2 separate regions of the Homo sapiens genome follow, and region 2 is linked to region 1. The links come from fine-mapping of genetic effects on gene expression. Tissue or cell type: whole blood. Region 1 holds a variant in brackets; the other region holds the start of a gene. All regions are shown on one strand. Distances are between the middles of the regions.

Region 1 (2,681 bases):
AAGGAATTTGAAATCATGCCTTTGAGTCTGGGAAAGGGATGTTCTGGGGGCTTGTGGTAGCCTTCTTCAAATACCAAAGGACTGTCCTGTGGAAGAGCGTTAGACTTGGGATGGGCGCTGGACTAAGTGCAGGGAGACAGAATCCGGCCCACCTGGGAGACATCCAGGCGGCCCCCACTGAAGGCCCTTAAGCTCTCAACTGCGAAAGGATGAAGGTATAGATTGCAGCAGCCGTCTGCCTGGTAGGGAACCTCCTGTCCAGCTCTAACTCACAAGAGTGCATCGCTTTACACCTCTCAGAACTGGGGCAGAAACCAGGCTGTCAGAGCACCACGATGATGAGGGAGGGTGTAAAGCCTTAGAACACAAAAGAATGTTAAAAGTCTTCTCAATTTTTATATGAGTTACATGTTGGGGTAGCAGTAACTTGAATATATTGAGTTAAATAGTTGCTGTTTGGGAGTTTAGGGAAGTTTTAAAACTATGAATTTGGGTTTCTCAGCCCTTTCCACATTCCTTTAAAGATGAGACCATCAAACTCAGTCTTGATGATATCTGCATTCCACAGGGTTACTCAGTCACTGAGCGTTTCTGGCATTTTATCCTGTCTGTCTGCAGTTTCCACAGAATGCCAATAAGGTATAAATCTTCATTAAGAAAATTTAGAAAATAAGTAATAGCAAACTTTTGTTAAGGACAAAGGGTCCTTTTAAGAGTTTGATGTGGTCCTTGCCAGATGGACAATAGAGACCCACGTGCACGGACATCAGGTGGCTGCTTAGTCTGGGTGTGAAAAAGCTGCAGTTTCTGCTAGTGTATAGGAAGTGTTATCTGGATTCTAATCCTGGCTAATTCTGCCTGGCTTGCAGTTCTTTTCAATTTAAATAAGTGTAGTTTTTAAAGTCTGGAAAGGCCTGAGGATATGGGGCGGGCAGGGTTGATAGTTTTCACTCTCTGTTTCCTGAGAGAAAATAATGTTGCATC[T/C]TCAAAACAGCATCTGTCAGAATGATTTTCATCAGATTAAATAAATCCTCAAAGCAGCTATCATACTTCTTAGACTTGAGAAATGTAGGTTATACTTTGCATGGAAGCCTAATGGCATTTAAAATAGGTGTGTTTTGCATGTACAGCCTTACACCCAGACCTTTGACTGGGGTTTCTCGCTTGTGAGATTTTGTTCAAGCTACCACATCTCAAAGAGTTTAGTAACTGTTTTTACTTTATAAACGTCATAAATAATTATTTGCCAATTTAAGTTGCTGTTAATTATAGTTGGAAAAAAGGATTGGGCTCTGAAGCCTTTGGGCCAAACTTGATGAAAACCTTCAACACAACATACGCTCTGTCACGGGACAAGTTACATGAAAATACATATCGCTGTTAGACATTTTGGAAGAGGCCTGCCTTTTGCCATCTTTTCATGGGCAGCTGCCATATGTCCTTACAGCCAATTATGGCCTTTTCAGTTTTAGAGAAGAATTTTGGGGGCGACTTTTGGTTCATAAAGACCTTTAATGAATGATCAATACAGATTGATATTTATTATTCTGTGGCAGGGAAGCTTATTCTTAAAATTAGTTGCTAAATCTAAACCACAGTACGATACTTCCTCACACCCATTAGAATAGAGCCTTTATCCAAAAAAACAGAATAAAACAAAACAGAAAACAACGAGCGTTGGCAGGGATATGGGGAAATAGGAACCCATGTGCGTTGCTGGTGGGAATCTAAAATGGAACAGCCGCTGTGGAAAACAGGTTGGTGATTCCTCAGAAAGTTAAACACAGAATTACCATATAACCCAGCAATTCCACTTCTGAGTTACACACAAAATAATTGAAAGTAGAAACTCGAGCACATATTTATACACCCACGTCCATAGCTGCACCATTCGCAGCAGTCCAGGTGTCCATCAGCAGATGAATGGATAAGCAGAATGTGGTCTGTCTGTACAGTGGAATGTTATTCAGCCTCAAAAAAGAATTCCCACACATTCTGCAACATAAATGAACCTTGACAATATTATGCTAGATGGAATAAGCCAGACACAAAAAGACAAGTACTGTATGATTCCACTTACATGAGATCCCTAGGGCAGTTAAACTCACGGTGATGGCCAGGGGCTGGGAGGAGGAGAGAATGGGGAGCTAGTGTTTAATGGGGACAGACTTTCTGTTGGGAATGATGAAAAAGTTCTGGAAATAGATAAAGGTGATGATAGCATAATAATATGAATATACTTAATGCCACTGAACTGTATACTTAAAAATGGCTAAAATGGTACATAATTTTTTTGTAATTAGTTGCTGAGCTGGCTGGGGTTTCAAAGCGAAGTTAGAAGGGAGGGAGAGCTTGGACTGTCTTTAGGAAGAACGTTTGCCTTGAGCAGACCAGAGCTAAAGGAGACCCTCAGTCTGGTGTCCTGTCACTTCCCGCCGAGTCGCCTCTTGCGGCTCGATAAGACTTTCTCATGCAACACAATTCTTGAATATTGTGTAAAAAGTGCAGTCTTAAAGCAAGGACCTCGCCTGCGGAAGTGCTGGACACATGGGGTTCTTTTCTTTCAGTGCCTTATTTCTTACCAGTGCCAAACAGATGGGGGCGCTGGAGCACAGCAGTGCAGGATGAAGTCTCAGGCCTTCATGTTGTTCTTCCCCAGGTTAATTAGGTGGAATGCACAC
Region 2 (2,681 bases), 70 kb before region 1:
AGTGACAAGAGATGAGGAGCTCAGCCTCCCTGAACAGTTTTGTTGTCAAAGGGAAAAGTACAGCCAAGCGAGGGGTGGTGTTTCCTTCGCTAAAGAGATTAGGCCTGTCTGAATGCGAATCCAGCAAGGCATTGCGGAAGTTAACAGCAGTTGCAAAACACTGGGGCAGGCGGGAAGAACACGATCCAAGGCACGAGAGCCAGGGGTCAGCCACGGCAACAGGAAGATGATGGTGAAAACCAAAAGTTTCTGAGAGTGGTCTCAATTTAGGAAGTTTATTTTGCCAAGGTTAAGGACGTGCATTGACACAACCTCAGGAGGTTCTGATGACATGTGCCCAGGGTGGCCAGGAAACATCTTGGTTTTATACATTTGAGGGAGACATGAGACATCAATCAATACGTAAGATGTAGGTTGGCTCTTTAGGAGGTAAAATGTGAAGTGGAGGCGTCCGGGTCATAGGTACATTTAAAGGTTTTCTGATTGGCAACTGGTTGAGAGTTATCATCTAAAGACCTGGACTCAGTAGAAGGGAATGTCCGGGTTGCATGAAGGAGTTGTGGAGACCAAGGTGTTATCATGCAGATGAAGCCGGGAATACACTGCAAATGTTTCTTATCAGAGTCCTCTATTAGTCTTAGGGTCTCCGTGCGGATGTTTGTGAGGCCATGTTTGACTTCCGCTTCCCATCAAGGCCTGAACTAGTTTTTCAAGATAACTTAGAAGGCCACAGGCGGAGGGGAGGGTCCATCCGTTGGCTGCAGGGCTTAGAATTTTATTTTTGGTTCATAACGAGGAGGGCAGGGACAGAAGCCACCGTCTCTGCTCCCCAGCGCTGGCCCTCACTCGGAAAGCAGGCTCTCCCCTCGCATCGTCTTTTAACAAATTCCTGCTCTCTCGGCCCCCGTCGCTGCCATCTGGGCTCTCCTTTCCGCGCTTCATTAGGCGCTGCCGCGGCAGGGGCTGAGGGCCTCAGGGGACGGTCGCCTCCCTGCCGGGACGCCCCGGCCCTGGCCCGCACTGTGGGGCGCAGTCACCCAGCCGTCGCCGCGTAGCCAGGAGCCCGGCTGAGCGCGTTCGCTGCAGGAGCCATCCTCAGCTGGGCCCTACTTAACTTTCCGCAACTCCAGTCCCCGCAGCCAGTCGGGGACCCCGCCTCCCTCTCCTTCCTTCTCCCTCTCACTTCTTCACCCCTTCTCTCCCCTCCCTCCTCCGCCCCCGCCCCCGCCCCCGCCCCCGCCCCCGGCCACAGCATCCGACGTGGCGCGGCCGGCTGCGCACGCACCGTATGCTTGGCTCGCGGCCCAGCAGGGCGGGCGGGCCGCGGTGACGTCAGTGCGCATGCCGTCGGTGGGCTCGGCTGCGCCACGTCGGCGCGCGGCGGCCGCGCCCCCTTAACGGCAGTGGCACTCACCCGGCTCGCGCGGCCCCGGCGCCCCACGCGCGCGCGTCGTTCTCCCGCCCGCTCGCTCCCCGGCGCTCACACCTGAGCTCACTCGCGCACGCCCGCCCGGCCCGAGAACCGCGCCGCCGCCTCGGCCCCGCGGAAGCCCCGCCGCGTCATGTCTTCGCCTCCCGAAGGGAAACTAGAGACTAAAGCTGGACACCCGCCCGCCGGTACTGACTCTTTTCCTCTCTCTCCACGCGCGGGTGCCGGGGGCGGGCTCGAACCCGGGGGCGCCGGGCGGGGGCTCCGCGGGGAGGGCCCCGGCGAGCGCTGAGACGGGTTCCGGGCCTTGATGCCCGCCCGAGGGGCGCGGGCCGCGGAGAGGTCGGGCGCCCAGGCCCGGGAGGAGCCCGCCGGAGCTTCGGCCCCGCTTGCCGGCGGCGGCGAAGCGTTTCTTCCTGAGGACCGCGGGCGGCCGCGTACCTGTGCGATTGCGCGCAGGCTCCGGTGCCTTGGGCGAACCCAGTTGCACAACTTATAACAAAGTTTTGGCGGATAATATTTACTTAGAGGATACAGATGTCTAGAAAGAAAGTAGCAGAAGCAATGAAAAGTCAGTGGTGTTAATATCATGGTGATGATTAATTAGAGGCTGCCAGCGTTTCATACCGACTCAAGAACCAAGGAGCGGAAATAATTTTTATCATTAATCACTCAATATGACTTTCACCGCCAGTTTCTTCCACATCCAGATTTTTTTTTTCCCCCAAAGTTGCTTTTTCTGATTTTGAGCAAATCCTAAACTTCTGAGCCAAGGAAGTTAAAGCCAGGAAAGAGCGGTCTTTCTTAGAACATAGGGATCTAAGCAGCCTTCATGCTTCTGCCACCTCCTCCTCTCTCTGGGCACAGTTCCTGTTTGCACTTTGGATTCTGTCCAGACGGGTCTGTTTCCGTTTCTACTCTCCTTTCCAGTGGCAGTCGGCCCATATGGAGGGACACTGGTGAGAAGATCAAAGGCCTTGGGTCTCAGAAGCCAAGTCACTTCAATGTATGGATGCGTGAGGTTCTTTTAGGTCTTAATAGCACGCCTTAGTGTCATAAACTCAGTCTTGTAGGAACAGAAGTCTTTGAGAAACATGGCTTCTTTTGGTGGCACATTTGCGCCATTTTCTTGACAATAAAGATTCCTGGCCAGGCGCGGTGGCTCATGCCTGTAACCCCAGCAGTTTGGGAGGCCAAGGAGGGTGGATCACTTGAGGTCAGGAGTTCAAGACTAGCCTGGATAACATGGTGA

What was found. PIP is the estimated chance that this variant, and not a neighbour inherited with it, causes the effect.
Region 2: it holds the start of DAP, and the variant in region 1 is fine-mapped to the expression of DAP in whole blood (INTERVAL, PIP above 0.99).

Annotation. Positions count from the first base shown.
Region 1 is chr5:10,689,935-10,692,615 of GRCh38, reverse strand. All of the region lies in intron 2 of DAP (death associated protein), which reads left to right. Among named protein-coding and RNA genes, the nearest start is that of DAP-DT, 70 kb to the left of the region's middle. The variant T/C (reference allele first, on the strand shown) is at 985.
Region 2 is chr5:10,759,950-10,762,630 of GRCh38, reverse strand. DAP (death associated protein) reads left to right here and starts at 1,397. Exons shown (of 4, transcript NM_004394.3): 1 at 1,397-1,617. The coding sequence starts at 1,563. DAP-DT (DAP divergent transcript) reads right to left here and starts at 1,595. Exons shown (of 3, transcript NR_187555.1): 1 at 1,415-1,595. RefSeq lists silencers at 862-1,331, 1,412-1,841 and an enhancer at 494-1,339.